Linked DNA regions of Homo sapiens: regions 1 and 3 are each reported to be linked to region 2. Evidence: microRNA targets listed by miRTarBase, many of them from high-throughput screens and not tested one by one. Region 2 holds a microRNA gene; each other region holds the end of a gene's coding sequence.

What was found. Region 2 holds the annotated microRNA hsa-miR-96-5p (UUUGGCACUAGCACAUUUUUGCU, at 3,625-3,647, opposite strand). A microRNA usually pairs through its seed, bases 2 to 8, with sites in the 3' UTR of a target mRNA and lowers its output. Matches are read on the target gene's strand: a 7mer-m8 pairs with bases 2 to 8, a 7mer-A1 pairs with bases 2 to 7 and ends in A, and an 8mer does both.
Region 1: miRTarBase lists EFNB2 as a target of hsa-miR-96-5p. Seed matches in the 3' UTR shown: 7mer-A1 at 4,003-4,009.
Region 3: the mRNA of ZC3H15 is a reported target of hsa-miR-96-5p. The part of its 3' UTR that is shown has no 7-base or 8-base seed match.

Annotation. Positions count from the first base shown.
Region 1 is chr13:106,486,012-106,493,960 of GRCh38, forward strand. EFNB2 (ephrin B2) reads right to left here. Exons shown (of 5, transcript NM_004093.4): 5 at 3,734-7,417. The coding sequence ends at 7,029. It overlaps LOC124903247 (a long non-coding RNA gene), which reads left to right and starts at 2,434. Exons shown (of 2, transcript XR_007063940.1): 1 at 2,434-2,624; 2 at 3,284-3,789. RefSeq lists enhancers at 6,469-6,969, 7,117-7,949.
Region 2 is chr7:129,771,115-129,779,063 of GRCh38, forward strand. MIR96 (microRNA 96) reads right to left here and starts at 3,655; the gene lies at 3,578-3,655. It overlaps MIR183 (microRNA 183), which reads right to left and starts at 3,900; the gene lies at 3,791-3,900. RefSeq lists enhancers at 1-392, 2,119-2,980, 5,824-6,670.
Region 3 is chr2:186,507,821-186,515,769 of GRCh38, forward strand. ZC3H15 (zinc finger CCCH-type containing 15) reads left to right here. Exons shown (of 10, transcript NM_018471.3): 10 at 723-1,541. The coding sequence ends at 913. Among named protein-coding and RNA genes, the nearest start is that of ZC3H15, 26 kb to the left of the region's middle.

The DNA.
Region 1 (7,949 bases), not on the chromosome of region 2:
AAAGTTGGAGTTATGTGTATAGAAACCTGTCTCACATCTTTTTTGTCATCTTGAACATCATGCAGGTCACTCAGTTGATGAAGAACTAAGAGATCAAATACTCCTAGACCCACTGGAAGATAGAGCAAGCTGTGAGCTCTTCCTGGAGCATTTTTTCCCAGTTGATGAATCCCAGAGATAGAAATGAATTTTGACTACTTTTTTTCTTCGTTTAGTGTTGTGTTAATGAAGCCACTGCACAAAAATGATATACCTGAAGAGGATTCTTGGAGTATTCAGTTTAAGATTCTAGGTAATTTTAAGCAATTTGCTTTGAGGAAATTTATCTCCCCTACTGTTCTTGGACGTTTTAAGATAAGAGTCATCACGCCTTTTAAAACACACACACACACACACACACACACACATACACACACATACACACACACACACACACATAAACACATACACACATACACACACATACACACATACACACATACACACACATACACACACATACACACACACATACACACACCCCTGTAATCTCTTTATTAAGCATGAATGGCACTTAGTTAAGAAATAATAGCTCTATTATCAACTAAAAGATGTTTCTCAATTCTACAGTTTTCTGTCACAGACTACAGAATTAGAGGTGTAAATAATAAAGGAGGGATAAGGATGTGTTCCAGATACCAGCATGAACAATATTCAACAGGAAGTTAAATTAATCTTGAGTCTACAAGGAAGACAAAGTCAAGTTGGGCTAAGTTAACTGGTGGAAGGGGACACCGTGACCACCCGACACGTTGCCTGGCTCGTGGTGGGTCTTTATCAGACAGTCACGTAGAAGAGTGTAGCGAATGTGCTCGGACCCCGCCTGCAGTGGCCTGAAAATGTTTTTAAATAGAGATAAATGATTCCACTTAACAATTAGAGGGAAGGGCTGGCAACACCAGCTCAATCCGTACATATACATCGCTGGTTCTGAAGTCTTTTTGGATTTTGATTCTAGGGAGGGGTGAAGAGCCGCAGAGTCCTGGACCCCGGGCCCTGGGCAGCGGGTTCTTGCTGGAGGCAGTGGGTTCTTGCTGGAGGCAGTGGGTGGATGGGCATGCGCAGCTAAGAGGTGGGGCCGACTGGGCACCACCTCCGCAGACTTCAGAGCTGTGTCTGCAGCACACTAGGACACGGAGAAGCTTGCATGGAGATACTTTTGTACAGCTGAAAATGGTGATGGCTTTTTGCTGCGAATCCTGCAAAAAGGCAAAAGCGACCTTTGGTATCTTAGAATCCATCCCTCTCACTTTACAGGTGAGGCTCTGAGGCACAGAACATAAAAGGATCTGCTGAAGGTCACAGCATGAGTCAGTAGCAGAAATACAGCCAGAAACCAGGTGCCCCTTTCATGATTTAACACCTTTGTTAACTGTCTACAACTGGCCAGAAACTGTGCTGCTATAATTAGTATTATTTTCCTTGTGCCGTATGCCTGTGTACCTGGTGTATACCTGGAGAATTCTTGAGGGGGTTGGTTGTTTTTAAAGATATGGTTGACTTCATATGAACACTGTTTTAAAGAGATTCCACTAATCAAGTTATCAAAGTATAAAAATCTTAAGCTGCATGTATCGTTAGCTTTTGGGACATATCTAAAAATGGATTAACCTACCTGGTTTGCTATATTTTGTTACAAATAATGCAATATTTTAGTACCCCCCCCTCAAATCACTGATGAATGATTCTCTACCTGGAATAATGAATCGGAGTAGGAAATACTCTTTTCCATGACAACACTGAAAATTTGCCTTCAAGTAAGTGTATAGTGTAAATATCACAAACGTAATTCAAAAATCCATCCAAAGTAAAAACCAAAGCAGTAGCACATCCAGGCTAGTGTCCTTGGTGCTGCAGTAGCTACTGTGTCTCCTGAGCCACCTGAGACCTATTTGCTACCCAACCAAAAAGTAGGGTAATGGTCCTTTTTCTTTTTCTTTCTTTTTTTTTTTTAACCTACATTAGGAAAGTGAGTTTTACTACTCTGGAGTTTACTTTTTCTCTTGCTAATTCTTCTCTGGGTTGGGTTCAGAGACTGACAGTAAGCTGGACAGCAGTTACCCAGAAAGGAATACTTTATTTTTTCTCATTTCCATTGCGAACCTTTATCCCAGGGTTTGAATGGCCATCTGCTTTGCCAAAAAGGGAGTTGATAAGAAAGAGAGCTGGCTGCTGGCTGAGGGACGCTCGCCTGTGCAGAGAAGTAACGTGCTCAGAGCAGGCTGGGCTCACCTTTGAGACAGAACAAAGGGCATCTGGTTATACGCCCTCTGCAAGGAGCTTCTGCGTGTGTTCCTTCTTCCCAGGTGAAAAGAACAAGTGGACAAATCTTGTTTCTTAGCTGAGCTTGGCTTACTCAGAAAACGTGGTTTAAAAACAGGGTCCAAACCATGACATTGTGTATTCGGTAATTTATGTTGTAATAGGTACCACAAAGTAAAGGTTGAAAATGCATGATTTCACTTTGGTTCTTTTCTTTTGCCCAAACTAACTAGAAATGACCTTGGTGCACACGGTCGAGGGTTCAGCTTAGTGGCTTGGCCATAAAATTGCATCCATCAACTTGGATCTGCAACTGAAGGCAGGTGGGTGCAGCAGGAGAAAATCCTGGAACAGATGAAACTACGATTCTACCATCCACGAAAACCCTGGGCCTCCGGGGATTGTTGTTGTTGCTGATGAAGGGAGGCATTTATTTAACAAACATTTCTCTAGTACAAGTACTGTGCTAAGCTGTGTAGATCCCTGTGTCCAAACCAGCCTTTCTTCATCACCTATGGACTTTTGAAACATATGGTTTCTTCCACTGACTGGGGTGTGGTCCTGGGCAAGTCAGTCAGACCTGGGAACTCTTCTGGCTTGCTTCCTGACTCCAGGGGCCTTTTCCTATTCTCCCTACCTAAAATGTCTCACTCTTATGGCAGGGATTAACCTGAGATAATGTAAAGATGTTAGCACTCAGATCTCAAGGGTGTGAAGTTCTCTGCCATGGGTGGGGACTCTTGGTTGTTTAAAAAGCTACCCAGGAAGTATAGTGATCAGTCTTAATACCCAGGACTACAAGAGGCCTGAAAAACAATCACACCCCTCAGGGTACATAGTTACCTTCCCCAGGAAGATGACCACTGAAAGTGTGTTTTAAACTCACAGCTGGCCTCTGGCTTGCCTTCAACCAGTATCTCAAAATGTGCTCTCATCAATGTTAAGTTTTTACAAAAACATTTGACTTTTTCCTTCTCCCTAGGATTATTCTGTTAAGAAAAATGAAGCGATAGACCGCTGCTTTGCTTCTATGGACACTAGATCGATCTGGAATTAAGTGTAAGATAAGAGTACATTTCCCTCTTTTTCCTGAGACAGCTAACTTTGTAGGTAACTATTCTGACTGTGCAATTCAGGTGCCACTAGAGAGATTTTCTGTTGAGGATTATTAGGATTTTATACAATTGCATATTATTTTTGAAATGAGAGTTTGTGGTTTTATGGGGAATAACGAGCTCACGGCTCTTAGCAAAATTAATATTTGTGTGATGTGCACATCCCGATTTGAAAAGTGGGCACACAGTGTCCATAGACAGAAGTCTCTGGATTAACTGTAATTTTGGGGGAAATAGAGTAAAGGAAGGCAAATTAAAATAACAAACAAAAAAGAAAGAAAAATGAAAAGAAAAGAAGAAAAGTACTTTGAAGGCACTTTTTCCATAGGAAAAAAATATTTTATTTTTTTAAGAACAAATTCAGTTTGAAACAGATGTGGAATGTGACTTCACGGATTTCATTTTCTGGGGCTAACTGCAATGTGAAACTAAAGCAGATTTAAAACCTATGACAGGCTATTAAAATAAAACAAAGAAAGAAAAAAATATTTATAACTCAGGCATAATACTGTGTTACTTACAAATTGGACAACGAAATTTTAAATAAATATTCATGGTACATAATTACGGCACAAATATGCAGCAATTTGGCAACCTTTTATACCATTTTTTCCTCATTACAGTGCAAAGGGGAATGACACTGCCGTTAAACAAGCTGTAGCTAAATACATTGCAAAATTCAGATTTTATACAAAACATCTTGCTTAGACTTTATAAAAAACCAACATTGCTCTATGTACACAATCTGGGTAAGAAAAGCCATTTCTTTCTTGTTTTCATGTGTATTTTTATTAAAAAGGTGAATAAGGCTACTGTAACACCCCAAATCCATAGACAGTAAAATCTGAACCTATTTACAGCATCTTCACTGAAACATGATGGTGCAAATTCCAAAGTCGGGTGACCAGGGACGATCATACAAGCAAGGCATTTACAGTAACTTTCCAAAGCTAAACCAACTTCAAACAAAGGGACAGTTGGTAGATTGTCATATTCTGCACCAGACACAAAACAGACGCACAGAACACTTTTCAATTGGTTGCAGGGAACTCTTTTATCAATTCATCTGATTTTTCACAGTTTAGCATAGAACCAAAACGTAGCCAACTGATGATACATACATTTGATTTCATTAAAATCAGACTATTTCCCATTTTTCCCCTTCTCGCCCCTCTCCCCCATCCTAAAAGTAACTTCTGATGGCTTACAAGAAACTCTTGCATGAATGCACAGAAAGGAGAGGTTGGGGTGATGGAAAGAATTACATATGTACTGTGGCTGGTTACCATGGCAACCCTCCACAGAAATATGATATAGATATATATAATATATATTGTAGATATATATTATACATATATGTACACATGTATACCACGCACCCACTCACACATACACACACGCACTTTGGACCAACATCATTTCCAGGTTCAGGAAATAGAGGATCATAATTTCTGTGACAACTCATTTTTGCAGGTACTCACTGGAGGTCTGAGAACCTTAAAATGCTGTCGCTACATTTTTTTTCCCTTCCAATTCAGAAAGCAAAGTGTTACCATAGTAACAGGACTATGTTAAAGATGTCTATTTTGCATAGCACATAAAAAGTAGGTTTCCTGTTTACTCTTCTTGTTTCCCAGAAGGGAGGGGGTGCGGGGGAGGACAGGAGGAGGGAGCCACAGCTAAATCGTCACCTGAAGCCCCCAGTGTGACCTGCTGGATTCTAGAGAACACTTCAGCCCATAAGGCAAGGGAAAACCCAACGCAGAAATAAACGCCGGAACATCTTGTCATTGTTAAATATATGATGCAGTCACATCGGCTTCCTGCTCTGTGGGGCTCGTACTTCCTAGTCTACGGTTCCGTGAGATGCCTTCGGAGGACTTGGTTATTTTTGCATTTGCTCTCATTATTGTTCTTTTTGGAATGATGTTGTTTTTCCCAGAAGTAGCTGTCCAATTTGTTTTTTTAAGCGCTGAGCATTGGGACCACTTAATTGCCACAAATGAATTTCACATCTTCTGGTGTGTACTGTGTGCAACCTTAAAATATATATTAGTAAAAATCTTTCATTTTATATCCCTTGTGTTCTATATACCTATTATAAATACGTCCTATCTTCCTTCTCCCCCTGGACATCATAATTTACTTCCGTCTTAAGGACTCTAAGAGGTCTGCCGTATGTGCTTCACCTTGACACAGAGCACCGGGCGCTGCAGCCTCCATCAGTACCGACCCTGCAGCCCTGGCACCCGGACAGCACCGCATAAACCAAAGTGTCGTAAGGCTCAATCGGGAGGGGAAGGAGGAACCTGGGGGGAGGGGGATCTGACCTACCTTTTATAGATAAGGATTCTTTAATAACAACGATGATGATGGAATTACAGCCTGTTTGACCTTTGGCTTTTCAACTTTTAGGTCAGATTTGGCTCTCTGCTATTCTCCTAAATGCTTTCCCTGTGTTTAATAAAATGTGATAAGTATAGCAGCTGAGTCTGCTTAAAAAATCATCCAAAGCAGACCGACTCTCCTACAGCTCGGAGCTGTGTATCTTATTGCCAGTACCACAACAGTCCTGCCCGAATATATCATCAGCGGCCTACTTTCTCCCTTCCCTCCAAGCCTGTTCCTTTCCCAACAATACCCGTCTTTGTTCCCCGGAATGAAGAGGGGCTTTTCTTCCTGCACATCGCTATTTGATAACAGCGAGTGCCTCCCCATGCACTGGAATCCACTGTGTGTGCTGTCGTGTCTCCTACTGGCCTCTTCGATCTCAGCAAAACCAAAGTGCTGTGCTACCTAATTGCTTTTTTCTTTTTTCCTTTCCAACTTTCTGTTTCAGAGGCAGCAGCAGTGAGCTGCAATTGCAGCCAGCCCTTTCCCCAGCCCCACTCCCTTCTATGAACTCCTAGCCTTCTTCGCAGACAGCCTAGCATCTGGCTAAAGGGCACCTTGTTAGCAAACACAATTTCTATGAACGGATTACCCATGGACTGAAGCTGTTGTTGCCAGCGGCTGGAGGAGGGGACTCCAGACATGAGTGTTCCATGAGTGATGCAGATGTGGAGTGGAGGTCTCAGGTGAGGTGCTGCAGAGCCCTGGGTAACAGAACGAGTGAGACAGTAAGGACTAAACTCTAGAGATCTTTGCACACCTTAACTAGCCCGAGGTCCGTGTGACAAGTCCGGTATGCACTGCGGGGGAAATGCACCCCAGGCAGAAGCCGGCCCTTCCAGGCGTGGCATCCTGGGGCACCTGCCAGGATGCTCACAGCCCTCTCGTCCACAAACCACTGTCTTCCCTTGGCTTCTGCAGAGGCCTGAGTGACCGCAGCACATGGCTTCGAGGAGGAGACGTGGGACGCGGCACAGCAGTCCGAATGGGCGTCTTCTGCACAGTCTTCCAGCTTCCAGGGAGCGTGTGTGTTCACCAAGGCCGAATGCTACAAGACTAGGTAAGCTGTCCAGCGCGACGGGCTCTTCCGAGGAGGAGTGTCCCTCTCCCCCGGTGCTGTGCTTCAGTCAATTCTCCAGCACGCGGGCTCTCAAACCCTCAAGGGAGGCATCGGGACATTAGGTGTCCTCTGGGAAAGCACAGGTACCACCAGGGTCCCTCTCAGACCTTGTAGTAAATGTTCGCCGGGCTCTGCGGGGGCATCTCCTGGACGATGTACACCGGGTGCCCGTAGTCCCCGCTGACCTTCTCGTAGTGAGGGCAGAAGACGCTGTCCGCAGTCCTTAGCGGGATGATAATGTCACTGGGCTCTGAGCCGTTGTTGTTGCCGCTGCGCTTGGGTGTGGCCAGTGTGCTGAGCGACAGCGTGGTCGTGTGCTGCGGCGAGTGCTTCCTGTGTCTCCTCCGGTACTTCAGCAAGAGGACCACCAGCGTGATGATGATGACGATGAAGATGATGCATCCTGAAGCAATCCCTGCAAATAAGGCCACTTCGGAACCGAGGATGTTGTTCCCCGAATGTCCGGCGCTGTTGCCGTCTGTGCTAGAACCTGCAGACGCGGAGACAGAAAAGGTCAGAGATAGTTACTGCTGTCCCAGTGCAGACGGACTGCTTTTATGACCCTTAAAAATGTGAAAAATAAGCCAGGCTTATTACTAACTAGAAGCTGGACTTTGCCTCGCCAATACCTCGTCTAAGAGCTCAACGCAAAAGGAAATGAGAGGTATCTCTAGGAGGGACTTCCCTACCCTCCCAAGCCACAGGGTTTCCTTTGTATCATTATCCAGCAAGAGCACAGACTGTCGGTGACAGCCAGCCCTTGATCTTGCTTCATCTTCTAACCCGTGTCAGCCAGCCTGGGGCAGCGGCAGGGAAGAAAAAGGGAAGTGGCCAATTCTCCAGGTCAGCGGTGAGCGTTTATGTGGTATTGCTCTTCCGCCTCCTTTGAGAAAGGGAGTTTCATGCAAACCTTCAAAGGGCCTGCCTTCTAAAGAAGAGCCCTGCCTCCTGGCAGAACAGAACAGCTCGGGAACGCGGAAGGAGTGAGGGGGCCTGGGAAAATGTTCAGCTCGTAACTCGTC
Region 2 (7,949 bases):
CTTCCCTAAAAGCAGTGGACAAACAATGGCGCTGGGACCTTCTACCCAGGAACGGGAACAGGCAGCCTCTGGGGCCATCAGTCAGTGGCAGGAATGGGCCAAGCTAAAACCAACCAAATATCTCCCATCCAGACGGCACTCTCCTGACCACAGAACCCACTGCACACACCCAGCAGCCCTGCACACACCCAGACCCTTTGAGGGCTGGCTGCGATCTGATTCTCGGAGTGGCATTTCCCCAGACCGCCAGTCACTTACCCAAGGGCAGCACACTTCCGTGTTCCCACTTCCCCTGATGAGGCCAGGTCCTTTCCCAAGGGGTGTTGAAGTGTCCTGAAGGCATCTCAAGCCTTTAGCAAGGGTGCAGGCTGCCTGCCCCCAACCCTGCATCCCCATGCCTCCCCTGCAGCCTGGAAGGGACTCTTTGCCCTCAAGCCTCCTGGGCAGTATGGGCCCACCATGAGCAGGCTCATTTTCCGAACATGCCCCGGCTGGGGGAGCAGCTGACTTGGCAGGGCCCCCAAAATGACACCGCTGCCGCCGCCACCGCCACCACCCCTCCCATCCTGCCTGCCCTTTAGGGTGGAGTGAGATGGGATGATGGCTTAAGATGCAAACAGATCCAGGCCATCCCCAGGGCCAAGTCCAGGACCTCGGTGGCACCCAGACCGGACCGGCAGCCTGGGCTTGGGCGCTGGGGAGGACACCTCTGCCCGAAAGGAGAGGCTTGGTGGGGAAGGTTTGGCCTCTGAGCAGAGGCACGACTCTGGAAGCCTCTCCGAGGGTGGGCGGGCCTGCTTTGGGACATCAGCAGCACTGGGCTCTCTTGGTCCCATGGAGCCCCCAAGCCTGGGACTTGCTGAGGAGGCCACTCCCACCCTCCTCCAGTGTGTATGTGGGGGGTCCTGTCCTCCTCCCCACCCAGCTGTGGCCGCACCAGCCGGGCTCCATCGGCAGCCTGGGGCTGCAGGCGATCAATGGTGCCGGATCGCATTTCGACCCGCCTGAGGCTGGGCAGAGGCTGGGATAATGGCCTGGAATGAATAAGCAAATGGAGTGGTGGGGGAGGCGGGGAGTCTGGAAAACCCACTCATACAGCCCTCCAGGGAGCTGCCCCTCCTGCCGCTCCACGCACCCAGACAGGCCAAGCAAGGTGCCCGACATGGGGGACGCCCTAAACCCGGGCATCTGGGAGCCGCTGCTTTTGACAAACAGAAAAACAAAGCAAAAAGTGCTTCTCAGTGACCCTCCCGCTCCAGCAAGAAAGGCCTTCGCTGCAGTGGGACAGCGTTCCTGCCTGACACTGGACACCATTGGACAGATCATGGGCAGAACCTTTTGCCCATCTCACAGACCTTCTGGAAGCCACACAAGGGAGGATCCAGGACCTGTTCTGCAGGGTGGGGAGGTGAAGAGGGGCCCTCTCCTATCCTAAGTGCCCCCAGCCTGGGTGGTAGGAAATTGTGTCTTTAGGGAGGAGGGCCAGCTGTGGTGGCCCCCACTCTCTGGGACAGTCACTGTTGTGGGTGAACTCACCACCCAGGTCTGGCCCGGAACTAGGTAAATTAGGAGATCTAGAAACTAGCTTTGGCCTGAGGTCCTCCCCTGGAGCGCTGGAGCAGGGCCCCAGAGCAGCCGGGCCTGAAGCCTGGTGGAGGCACGCCCCCACACCAGTGCCTGCACTCGGGGCTCAGCAAAGGCGCCCACCTGGGCAGGTGTGAGGAGGTGGAGCCCAGCTGCAGACCACCCAGGGGCTGAGGGCAGCTTCTGTCATCCGGCCTTCCCCGCTAGGCAGGAAGGAGCAGAACCCTGGCCAGACACTCCAGAGGCTCCAGGGAAAAGCTCTAGAACCGGTCACTGCCAGGGGCCTTCCACCCCCCCTTGCTGGGTCTCTGTGCCCACCCCACCTCCAGGGCTCATTCTCACTCAGGCCGGGAAATCCCTTCTTTCCTATCCCATGGGACCTGCAGCAGGACGCCCTAAGGAAGCACCCGGGGCGGAGGACTGGAGCACAGAGACAGGGTGCGGCACAGGCCAGCCAGGTTCCGAGGGGCAGAGGGAGAGCTGGGGCCATCAGAAGAGAGACCTAGCTACAGGGACACCTCACCAGGGCAGAAGTCCCCTTCTATCCTGAAATAAACAAGCCCCTCCTTTTTTCTGCAGGGGCTTGGAGAGCTTCTGTAGAGAAACACGGGCACCACACCCCAGAGGGAATTTATTGGGGGCTCCTCGCGGTTTGGTGATAGCTAACTGACAAGAAAAAAAAGGCCCAACCCACCCAAGGCAGTCCCCAGGGCACCCAGGCAGGCAGCACTGGTCACCATGTTCCTGCTGTGCAGTCAACTGGACCCGTCATCCTCCAGCTGCCAGCTTCAACCACACACATCCCCCACCCGGGCACTCCCTGGCTCAGACACCTAAAATGACTCCCACTGATCTGGGCTAAGTCCACCAACCCTTGCCTGAGGCTCCCTGGGGAGAAGCAGCCCCATCAGGGGCTGGCCCAGTGACCTGGGGCATGATAGCTCCCAGCTGGTCCCAAGTCGGCCACTGGTCTCCTGCTTGATTGCTGACCACCAGATTTCACATGGGTCCAGCCTGGCTGGCCAGGCTCTCCCCAGCTTTGACAGACTAGGTCCAGGCCTCCCAGCCTCAGTCTCTGCCATCTGGGGCATCCTTGGGAGCCCAGGCCTGTAGATTCAGAGCTGAGACACCTCCAGGCCCTGGGTGCCTCCATGGAAGGTGTGGCTGGTGGCGGAAGAGCCACAGTGACCCAGCTCTACCACTCACCAACCTCTTCAGCCAAGCCTTTCCTCTCAAAGCCTCAGGTTCCCCATCTATGAGATAACTATTTTAAAAAATTACAAGCCCCACAGGGCTGAGGTGGGAACTGTTGGGATTATATATGTAATGTCACCTGACACCCAGATGGAGAGCATAGGCCAGTTAGTCATAGCCCAGATCCAGGGACCCAGGAAGCTACATTACCAGTGTGTGGTGTGTGAAGGGGAACATTGGCCTCTGCTCCAGAACCTTCTAGGGGCAGGCCTGAAAATGCCCTCCAACTCCGAGCCCCACTAAGTATCCTCCTCTTGGAGCTGTTCGGAGATGACCCACTCCACAGCAGGCTACAGCTCCAGAGACGGTAGCCCCCCTGGAAACACCCAGGCTGACCTCAAGGGCAGCCCACCTGCCTGGAGCTGCCCCCTTCACAACCTGCAGCAGAAAAGACCAGGCCCTGTGCTGCCAGCCAAGGTCTCACCCCAAGCGTGTGCTGGGAGCCTGGCTGGGCCTTTCCAACCCACGGCACCATTCAGGATGGCCCTACAGATGGTTTCAGACTCCCCCACCTCTGCCCTGGGCGGCCCCATCTGCTGGCCCAGCTCAGATTGCTGGGCTCCCAGCTCTACCGTGGCCCCAGGCAGTGTAAGGCGATCTGGCTGCCCACCAGCGCTGGGCCCTCACACAGCAGCTGAGCCAGATGGGCTGGGGAGGCGGTGAGGAGGCCTTGAGGAGGAGCAGGCTGGGGCCCTGACACAAGGATGCAGGGGAGGCGGACGCAGCTGCGGGTCCTGCTTTTCCCATATTGGCACTGCACATGATTGCTCAGAGCGGAGAGACACAAGCAAAAATGTGCTAGTGCCAAAATCGGCCAAGCAGATGGCACTGGTGCGGGCTCTCTGGGGACACACTGGACGAGGGGCCTTGCATCCCTGCACCCTTGGAAGCAGCCTGTTTCCGACGTCTAGGAGCACTCAAGGCAGAAGTGGGTAAGGTGCTCCGGAGGCCCTCGTGGATCTGTCTCTGCTCTGTTTATGGCCCTTCGGTAATTCACTGACTGAGACTGTTCACAGTGAATTCTACCAGTGCCATACACAGAACAGGAGTCACACTCTGCGGCCTGCCGACCCTGCGGAGAGACCAGCGGCCCACGATGCCCGTTCCCTGCTCCTAGCCTGCCCACTCCCTTGGGGGCCCCCCAGCAGGCCCTCAGCAGCGGCTGCTACGGTCTCTACCCCCCACCCCATCCCACCTCTTCACAAGATCCACATGCCCCATCAGCCCAAGATGACCTTCAAGGAGACAGGGACAGTGCGGGAGAGGAGCTGACCTTCTGGCCTTGCAGAGGAGAAGACCACACCAAGGTGTCTCCTATCTCCACCTGAAGGCCCACATCCCTCCACATCACCCAGACTGCGCCTCCAGGCTGGGGAGGGAGTGGGTCAGGACCATCCATCTCCTTGCCAGAGTAACTCTGGCTCGGAGAGGCAAGCAGCTGGCCAGAGCCTCCTCTCTACCCAACCTGCCACAGGGGCAGTGACCAGTGGGACATCCAAGATGCCTCTCGTAGCCTCTGAGCCCAGACACCAGCAGCCCAGGCTCCTAGGCACTTTGGTCTCCATTATCCTCCACCCCCCAGCCTGCCCTGTGGCAGAAACAGAGCCCCAGGAACAAACCGAATCTGCTGCTCACCCCCACTCCCATCCCAAACCAGACCAGATTGGGCCAGACTGTGAACCGCCCAGGCTGGGCATCTCTGCTGCCGGCCTAGGATCAAGGCAGGAAAAGGCCAGGAAAGGAGGGCAGAAGAGAAGTCCTGCAGCCACCCAGGTGGCTTGGAGGGAGCCGGAGGCACGGATGCACTCTAGCAAGGGAGTGGCTCCTGGCTGGCTCTGGAGTGACTGCGGAGGAAAGCGGAGGCTCAGGAGCGAGGGAGGGGCTGGGAAGGTTGCATCAGTGGTTGCCAGAGCAGCTGCCTAGAGAGAAGTTGCTGTGGAGGCCCTGCCTCTGGTGTCACAGGCCCTGGGGAAGGACGGGAAGAAGGGAGAGGGTGGGAGGGAGGGTCTCTGGGGAGCTGGCACCCAGGGCAGGCAAGCTGGGGCCTCCGCAGAGTGGCCACTAGAGTCTCAGCCTACTCCAGGTCAGCGGTGGCCCAGAAGGCAGGGTGGCTAGAAAATATCCTGGAAGGGTCAGAGCAGGTGCCCTGGCCCAGAAACTATGCAGACCTCTTGGCGATGTTACCCCCAGGAACTACCTCCCGTGGACCTCAGAGCTCCATCTGGGTACCTTGGCCAAAGCCATCCGCTCTCCCCTAGACACTGCTTAATGCTCCACCCTTCCTGCTCCCGAGGACTCTTTGTCCTGCTCCCACACACCCCCACTACAGGGCTCTGCCCTTCTAGCTGGTCTATCTCCCCAGAGGACAATCCAGCTTGATGAGGTGGTGATCTCAGGAAGTCACTCCTCAGCCTTCTGCCTCAGTTTCCCTTACTACAATTTTCTGAACTCTACTAAGGAAGAGAGACCAGACTTCCCAGCCTTGGGTGGGGAGGGGAAGGGGTGATGGCAGGGTGTTAGCAAAGAGTATGGGGTGGGTAGTTATGAACATTGCTTAGGGTGTAGCCATAAGCATCACCCAAGGAGCCTGTTGAAATGTAGATTCTTGAGCCTGCCTGGAAATCTGCATTTTAATAGCACCCTGACAGCTCAGCATGGGGTGGGGGTGGGGGTGGGAAGATCTATTTTGAGAAATCTTTCCCAAGAAGCCTCACCCTGGGATAATTAAACAGAATGCAGAATTCTTCTTTCTTCTGGCTGGGCGCAGTGGCTCACACCTGTAATCCCAGCGCACTTTGGGAGACGGGAGGATCGCCTGAGGTTAGAAGCTCGAGACCAGCCTGGTTAGCATGGTGAAACCCCCGTCTCTACTAAAAATACAAAAATTAGCCAGGCGTGGTAGCAGGCGCCCGAAGCTGAGGCAGGAGAATCGCTTGAACCCGGGAGGTGGAGGTTGCAGTGAGCAGAGATCGCACCACTGCACTCCAGCCTGGGCAACAACAGAGCGAGATTCTGTCTCAACAACAACAAAAAAAAAAAAAAAAAAAAAAAGAATTCTTCATTCTTCTTTTGGGGACAGCCAAGGATGGGGAGAGGCAGGTGTTAGGGAAGGGGAACACGCAGCACCTTGCAACCAAGGAGCCACAGAGGCCTTAGAGCTGGAGAACAGATGGAGCCAGGGATTCTGCTCTCCCCAGCCCAGGAAGGAATAAAAGGGACCCCAGGTAGAGGAGAGAGCCCTGTAACAAAGCAGCCAAACACGTACGCTCCTTCAAATTGTGGCATCTCTGTCGAGCTCCTTGGTCTGTTTTCCTCATCTTTGTAACTGACATAGGATGGAATACAGGGAGCAGCTCGCAAAGCCAAATCCCTCTCCACTTCCAGTTCTAGTCGGCTGGGCCAGGTTCCTCCCCTGCGCCTGCCTCACCCCTCCTAACCCAAATGCGACAGGAAGCCCAAGTGCCGCAGTGCCTGGGGGGTGCCACGCCCGCTGGGGCCTCTCCATCCTGGTGGAGGGAGGCTGGGGCCTGGGCCCTAGGGAAGCAAGGTCTCCCAGCTCTCTCGAAAAGCGGGTAAGAGGAGCTCTCCGACATCAGCAGCAGAATCCCCACTCGGAATCTCAAAAGGGAAAACAGAGGCCTATGGCTTGGCGCAGGTCAGGATAGCAGCCTCTTCTGCCCTCCCTGCAGGACACAGCCCTGACCTTGAGATCAAAGGCACAGAAATCCGCTTCTGGAGTGGGAAGATGAAGACAAGGTCTCCCACACCCGCTGGGCGTCAGCGCCTGGCAATGGAAGAGGACCAAAAGAGATGCAACTTGCAGGCCAGGCTGGGCAGCCAGGGACTCACAGGGTGTGTGGGGGTCCTACACATCCTAGGAGGTCTCCACAAAGCGCCCCCTCCCACCTTCGGTCGCTCTCAGCCCCACCCTCCTGAACTCTACTTGGGCCTTCTTAAAACTCGAGTCCCCTTTCCCCTAGGGGTGTCCCTTCCTGGGCACTGGTGCCCAATGCAAAGGGCAGGCCCCCAACCCCTTCCAGTGTTAGAGGTGAGTGTTGCAGGACTCTGGGCTATGGGTACTCCGGGGTCCTTAGACAGCACATAGCCTACCGCTCGACTCCTGGCTCTCCTCTCCACCTCTACACAACGAATCTGGAGTCCAGGGTCCCAGCCGCGCCACCCACAACCGGTCTGGTCCTGATCCCTCCAGTCTCTATCAAATGCCCCTGAGGTCCCAGGGGCTAGAGGCTGCTGGGGCCCTTGAACGGGCATGCCCTGGACGCTGCGCCTGTCATCCTGTGTCCCCATGAGGTGCTGGGAGAGGGGCCCAGAGCTCCTTTCCCCGAAGCCCAGGCCGCCACCGACCCATTAAATAAATACTCAGGTGTCTGGGGTGCGGAGCTCACTCCAAGAGCCACTGGGCCCCGGTAGGAGAAAAAGAATAAACGAAATCCTCACAAGTGAGGCCGGCATCCTAGAATTTTCTCTTCTTTGCGTAAGGCCGACTCCAGAGGTCCCGCTAACTCCCCCGCAGGAGCATGAAGGGGCGGCCTTGAGCGGTAAAGAAACGAGCAGTGGTGGAGGCTGCCGCTCCGAGCCCAGGTCCGAACCGAGAGCCGCGCGGGGAATGTGGGGGTCGAGGCTGAGAGCTGGGCTTGGGGCAGGTTCCTTTGCGTTCGCTCAGGCCACGATGAGGCCACTAGGACAGATTTCTCCGAAGGCTCGGCCTCGGATCAGAGATCCGCCGACTCGGTGCCCATCGGTCGGGCTCACTGGGTGACAGGTAGAGGGTGATGCGCACCCGTAGAGCTGAGTGACCCGGCCCGAGAATCCGCCACCTGGCTCGCAGGATTTTCGCCCTCAGGAGCTTTGCGAAGACGGGCGCAAACCTGGGAGGCGCCGCCGCACCTTGCCTGTGGGGGTGGGGAGGTCGATTACGGCACCGCCCGCCCTCGGCCCTAATCGCTCAGAGCCGGCCTCAGTGCCCCTGCCCCCGGCGGGTATTACTGTACACGGTGTCCGGGAGCCCGGGTTGGAAGAGCAAACGAATGGCTCAGCCTGGAGGACACCGTGGAATCGGGCGACCCCTGACCCCGGGTGACACCCTCACT
Region 3 (7,949 bases), not on the chromosome of region 2:
CTTGCTCTTTGTAGAAGTAGGGGCTTTGGTGACAATAGGCACAACTGCAAATAATTCAGAGATTATAAAATTCCCAAGACTTTGTCATCAGAGATGTTTGAAATAACTAAAATCTAAATTAGGCTGTTAAAAAATGTCTGTGTAATTGTCAATGGCATTGAACAAGAAAAGGCAGCATTTTTTTTCTCTCAGTTATTTATAACCTATAAGAAAAAGTAGCTGTATAGCACTATGTTTTTTTTTAACAATTTGATTACATGATGAAGATTTTCTGCTGTCACAATCACAGCATTACAACAGCATGATTTAAATACTATTTGCAAAACCAAAAGCCAAGTAGCTGCTTATATTACAAACATTTTTTTGGTTTCCATAACCATTTAGTCAAATAAAATATTATATGGAAATTGACTATTTAAAATCTAATTGCTAGGTCATGTAGGGAACACAGAGGTGTAGAAGATTGATCCTGCCCTCAAATGTATAAACCATTAAGTAGTCAAATGGCTACAGTGAAAAACAGTATTTTATAGTAGGTATAGATAATTGGCACAGATAAGCTCAGAAAAGAATGATCAGTTCTTGCTGGAGTAATTCTGGGGAAATGGCTTTCATGGAGAAAAGGAAAAGAGGAAGTGTAGTATCAGTCTATGTTGTCTATTGCTAATGTGGAATGGTGTTTTCTGCTTCTACGCCTTACTGATTCCAGTTTTTATATTTAGAAAACAAATTAAGTGAAGCTTCTGGAGGTAGGGCTGAAAATGGTGAAAGAAGTGACTTGGAAGAGGACAACGAGAGGGAGGGAACGGAAAATGGAGCCATTGATGCTGTTCCTGTTGATGAAAATCTTTTCACTGGAGAGGATTTGGATGAACTAGAAGAAGAATTAAATACACTTGATTTAGAAGAATGACACCAAACACATCGCTGAAAAAATTAAGTCAGCTCAGCACGAGTTGAAATTGACTACATTAATTTCTTTCCACCTAGAATCAACAGGATGTTTATTTCCTATGCTGATTCTGGAGGAGTTAACCTCCTGCAAAAAAGGCATCTTGTCCCTACATCTTCTCTTCTGACTTTGGCTACATCTCATAGTAAGTTCAGAGTAGTTCATGATAAATTGAAAATATAATGGTCATTGCAGAAAATGATTGATGTTGTAACTGTCCACCCAAGTAAGAAGTGTATCTGCCTTTCCATCTTTTGGTTTTCATTTGGGCATGTGCTATTACCAGAAACAACAAACTTATATTTAAAATACCCTTCATTTGACACAGTTTTTAATGAGTGATTTAATTTCCTCTGTATTTGTATGTTTAGAAGACTGCCTAAAACATGAGCACTGTACTTCATAAAGGAAACTGCGTATGCAGATTCAGTATTGTGTATCTTTGGACAATTAGATGGACATTTAAAATGGAACTTCTTTTATCTGACAGGATCAGCTACAATGCCCTGTGTTAAATTGTTTAAAAGTTTCCCTTTTCTTTTTTGCCAATAAAGTTGTAAATAAAGACCATCATACATTAAAATCCAAATATGGGCCTTTTTTTAAGTTTTTCTATGAAAAATTTAACATTTCTAGCTTGAGAATTTTAAATACCTGTTATAATATCACATAGGCATGTTTTCTTAATATTTACTACAGAAGCATCTAGAGTACTTGACAGTACTACAATGAGTTTAATAACACAAATACTAAGCTTCCAAAAAGAGACTTTAGGAGATGTTATATAAAAGAGTAACTTCTGAATTGATACAACATCAACCAAATTAAATATCACCTGCAGTTGAATCAAGTAATGCTTAAGAATTGTTTGTTGAGATTCATGGTGTTAAAATAGTACATACTACTGTAAGTATAAACAAATTCACCAGAAAACTTTGGGCTGAGGGTCTTTGGCACTAAGAGCCCCTGAAAAATTAGGGTGATAATACATTTAAAATGGACACAATTTGCTAATGACATATTTAGTACTAGCTACACCTTTTTTATTGTTATGTTTTGTATTTTCAAATAATATGTTGCTTTTGTTATTTGCGAATATAAATGGATTTTAAGGCAACTAAGATAACAGCACTAAAATGTCAGGTGAGCTGGACCCTAATCTCATTTCTGCCTCCGATAAATTATATGATTTTTAAATCTCTGAATCTTAGTTTCTTTATTTGCGTATTAAGGTTAAGACTCAATGATCTGGCCGGGCATGGTGGCTCACACCTGTAATCCCAGCACTTTGGGAGGCCAAGGCAGGCGGATCACTTGAGGTCAGGAGTTCAAGACCAGCCTGGCCAACATGGCAAAACCCCATCTCTACTAAAAATACAAAAATTATCCGGGCATGGTGGTGCATGCCTGTAATCCCAGCTACTCAAGAGGCTGAGGCAAGGGAATCGCCTGAACCCAGGAGGCAGAGGTTGCAGTGAGCCAAGATCATGCCACTGCACTCCAGCCTGGGCGACAGAGCAAGACTCTATCTCAAAAAAAAAAAAAAAAGACTGAATGATCACTAACGTACTTCTAAGTTGTAAAGCCTAAGAAATTTATGATTGCAAATCTTGTCAAATGATAACATCAAAGTTGATAAAGAAATTGACTTCCTAGCTGTTTAGTACTAGTACTATACAACTGACAGTTTTTAAATATAGAACATCAGGAGCCAAGTTTATTTCCAGCTACAATGAAAGTGTACTTAAATACTTCCTATATATACTTTATATATTTTTTTAAAAAGCTTGAGTTTTAAAGTTTATTCATGAAAGATTTGTTCCATTTTTTTGTGAAAGTTTAAATGGTACTTACTGCATTATTTAATAATGAAACATTTTCAGAATAGTCTAAAGAGCTTAAACCTTTTTTCTATTTTGAAGTCATCTAAAACATTTTCTAAGAATTTATCTTATAAATAAAAGTTAGAATTCATTTACTTCAGACCAAGCTTTTCCAACCTGAGGCCCGTGTGCCACATACCACCCAGAATGACTTTGAATGTGGCCCAACACAAATTTGTAAACTTAATTAAAACATGAGATATTTTTTTTTTGCAATTTTTTTTTTAATCTCAGCTATCGCTAGTGTTAGTATATTTTATGTGTGGCCCAAGACAGTTCTTCCAGTGTGGCCCAGGGAAGTCAAAAGATTGGACACCCTTGCTTTCGACCTTAAGTTTGGGGGCTTTTTTTTTTATCCTGTATATAAAGTAGGGCCATATAAACAAAAGGATGCTGAAAGACTTTAGGTGTGTTTAAAACAGTATTATCTTACAGCAAATAATGTGATCTCAAAAGTCAAGGTGTTTTTTAGTAAGTGTATAGATATAAAGCAAAATGGTTCAATGTGGAGGTAATTTTTTATACCTGCAAGTCTTTAATTACTGGGTGGCCTTCCTCTACCTTGCCCTGAAATTTCTTCCATTATTAAGACAATACGTGCACAGAGAATGCAAAAGTATTTTAATCTGAGACAATCAAAGTACAAAAATAAATCTGCTTCTAAAATTATAGTACATTTCAGAGGTTTAAAGAAATAATTTTTGTATTCTCAGTATAGTTACTCAGTATTGGTACAGTTAATCTGAAATTGGCTCTACTTTTCCAAACCCATTTATATATAAATAACCATTACAGCCTATAGTGATCCCATGTTTGCCAGAATCTTTCTAAATTTAAAATACAGTCATGTGTCACGTAACGAAGTTTCAGTTGCCTCTGAACTACATATACAAAGGGGTCCCATAAGATTATAGTACCTGTATTTTTACCTTACCTTTTCTATGTTTAGATGCACAAATACCATTGTGTCATAATTGCCTGCAGTATTCAGTACAGTAACATGCTGTACAGGTTTGCAGCCTAGGAAAATAGGTTATTTCATATATTTCATATAGTGGTAGATGGTAGGCTTTACCATCTAGGTTTATGTAACTATGATGTTCACACAACTGAAATCACCTAACAATGTGTTTCTCAGAACATATCCCTTAGTTAAGCGGTGCATGACTGAAGTTACATTGTGAATTTTACCTTATTTTTGCACAGATGGTATATCAGATGCTGTAAGCCCATCATACTGATATAAATGGACTGATATAAATTGTATAATGGTACAATATATTTCTAATGTGTATTATTCAGCGCTGACCGTTAAGTGATTCAGAATGTGATAGCAGTGAGATTACAGGATCAGATCATTGAGAAAGCATTGCATCTATCAGGTTTTAACACATAAAGTGGACAAAGGGAACTTACGGCAGACGTTCATACAGATAATTAGTAGAATTATTATATGAGTTCTCTTCTTGTTCTGGGTAGTTAACTTTGTATAAAGAACTTTCAGAATCACAGAAGAGATTTCTACCTAAGTATAAGACTGTGATGCTGATACATATATATATCCACATACAATATTATGTTAATGCTTCTAGGTACTTAGCACACCATTCATATCATATGAACTCAGGTATATGTTGTAATAAATTCGTTTCAAGGCATACCAGATGAGAGGATAAACTCCCAAAATCTTGTGTTTTGGGTTTTTGTCTCTATTTTTAAGCATATATCTTACTGATGATAGGTGTTCTCTGAGAATAAAGATAACACTTTACTTTTCAATTAGTAGAAATTACGAGAAGCTGAACTCTAACTAGAATCTGACAACATCTGCAAAATTTTATAGTACTTTAGAAACAAACCCAAATGAAATAATAGTACAAAATGTATTTTCACATTTTCTCCTTTTAATGTTGTATTTTTTGATTGTTACTCTTTGTTAATGTCGAAAGAAAAGGAGATTCGTTTTCATTAATTTCATTAATATTGTGTGCTTTGCCACATGTACAGCACTTGTATTGGGCACTATAGATTGCATGAACTATATGACAGTTTAAGACATGGTCTCAGCCTGATTTGAGTATACATGTTAGAATGAGAAAATCACAACTATATAAGGCAGAACTAGTAAGTTCCTGACCATTAACAAAGATGCCTTTTCAATTAGACTTTCCAGTATTTTACATTCAGTTTCATTGAGTGAGTTTTTTTTTTAATAAAGATTTTCTTTGTGAAGATAATATGATGGACATTTTTCAGACAAAGGTGGTTATTTTGTACTCAGTCCCCAGAGGCATACATTTCTGTTACAGCTGATCTGGTTTTCAAACAGATACATGTAAAATTAACTAGTCCTTATGGGACTTAAGCATCAGGACTTAGTTTCCTGATTCCTATGTAGTTAGCCTTATATTATAAACCAAAAGACAATGAAATACTAACTACTTTTTTTTGCCAATTAATCTCTAGGGTGTTTTCAAAGGACCGTATATCAGCTTCATTCCAAATGTGTTTCATTTCACCTGTGACTCCTTTAAACTATATTTTTATCTAAGTCTTAGGAAACTGTATATTTCAGTGACAAAGATCATCAATATGACTTAAGAATTTTTTTATGTTACCATATTTAACTGATGATTACGTATTTTGAATTACCTTGTTTTTACAGCATGTATGGAAATATATCAAAGAATTTATAATTAAAAGTATTTAAAACCTCTCAAGTTAGAAGTATAGTATATAATATAGTAATTATATGGATCACTTCATGATTGTGCATTATTGTATATATTGGACATATTTCACTTAAAAGAGAAATGTAATGCATGAGAAGTAGAATCCAATGTGTTAGGAATCTTCATTCCTGAATTTTTACACGGTGCTGAATAGGTACTGAAAGTAAAAATTTTAGTAACTAAATCTGCCAGGTGCAATCACATGTGCTTGTAGTTCCAGGTATTCTGGATTCAAAGGCGGGAGGATCACTTGGTCCCAGGAGTTTGAGCCTGCAGTGCACTGTGATTGCATCTGTGACCAGCCACTGCACTCCAACCTGGGCACATAGTTGAGACCTTATCTCTTTAAAAAAAAGCAGGGAAGGGGATGATTAAATCTTCTTTGATAAATTGATTTTGAGAATATTTCATTGAAAAACTAGATAATTTGTGGAGATACATTGTCAGTTGTATACAGACTAATTAACTACATTGGTGATTCACTCCATGGACCATTTTCTTCAGATATGTTTGGAATTATTATCTATTCCTACACTTATTGCACTAATGACTCACCTTAGAAGGAAAAGAAAAATTTTAATTTACTTAAAAAAAATTTTTTTTGATTGAATAGATAATTGTGTATATTTGTGGTTAATTATTATTTTACACTCCAGACCTATTTCTACACCTGTAGGGAAGAAACTTAATCACTGATATCGTCAGCCTGTCAGATACCACTGATATCTTCAGTCTAGTTTTAAGAAAAACTAGGACTAAGAAGAAGTATATAATCAAGTTCAAGCTAATCATGGCCATTTTTAAATTACTTGGTCTTTTTTAATACTTTTTCCCAGAGCAACCTTCTAAATGGAAGGGCAAAGCCTCAACTATCTAAAATGCAGCTTTTAAGGACTCTTAGATGTATGATATGCCTTATGTACAGGAGATTCCATCTATACCTTGACACCCACACCACTCCCACCCCTGTTCTCTCTTCCAAGAAGGTTTTTGGCAGCAAATAGTTCTCTTTAATTATTATATTTAAATATTTGTATATATTTAATTCACATTAGGGATAACAACTAAGAATTATTTAATTGGCAGGTTTATTAGGTAGTTGTTGATTGATGACATGTATAACAATCCAAATGGTATGATAGGTGAAGCCAATGCAGTGGCACATGCCTGTAATCCCAGCACTTTGGGATTGCTTGAGCCCAAGAGTTCGAGGTTGCAGTGAGCCATGATTGCATCACTGCACTCCAGCCTGGGTGACAGTGTGAGACTCCATCTCAAAAAAAAAGAAAAAAAAAAAATTTGGCCGGGCGCCCTGGCTCACGCCTGTAATCCCAGCACTTTGGGAGGCCGAGGCGGGTGGATCATGAGGTCAGGAGATCGAGACCATCCTGGCTAACAAGGTGAAACCCCGTCTCTACTAAAAATACAAAAAATTAGCCGGGCGCGGTGGCGGGCGCCTGTAGTCCCAGCTACTCGGGAGGCTGAGGCAGGAGAATGGCGTGAACCCAGGAAGTGGAGCTTGCAGTGAGCCGAGATTGCGCCACTGCAGTCCGCAGTCCGGCCTGGGCGACAGAGCGAGACTCCGTCTCAAAAAAAAAAAAAAAAAAAAAAAATTTGTATAAAGGGTGAAGGTTTACCCTTTATTAAAAAAACGAAAGCAGAATCAATATTAGAAGAGACAGAAGTATTAACACATATGAGTTGTCTATAAGAAGATGAGAAAAAGTGAACTACCACCTCATAATGTTTAAAAGGCTGTGGGGGGATTCACAGTAACATAGTTCTATAGCATGCTAATGATTATATACCTCTGTGTTCATATACAGCATGCTACTGTACAAAAATAATACTATCTAAAAATACAGGAATGCAAGGAACAAGTGAATATCATTTAAAGAATCAGTTCTCTTGATAATCCATTTGCACAAAATCAAAGGTTTCTTCTGGGCAAGTACATAAATGTACTTTTCACTCTTTACATGTGAGTGTCATGTGCATGTAAAAGAAAGGGAGAATCTCAAAGACTTCTATAGCTAGAGATAACAAAATATTCTTGATATTGAATAATCATGTTGAATGCCTTTTAAATCACTCTGAATGCATTAATGTAAAATATAACACTTTTAAAAGGTAGCACAGTTCCCTTCCACACAGAGTTAGCTGACCTCCCTATTTCAAAATTGCGGAATATGACTCACCAGAGAGGCATTTGGCAATTAATTTCAATCAACTATCGCTAATAAGGGATAAACTACAATAAAATCCTAAAAATTAAGAGCCAAATATTCCTTGTTCAGATGTCATCCCCCCCCCCAGTTTGATTATGTAATCTGTACAATTATACGAAGAAATACAAGATTAAATAAGGTGAACTTCTGTTGA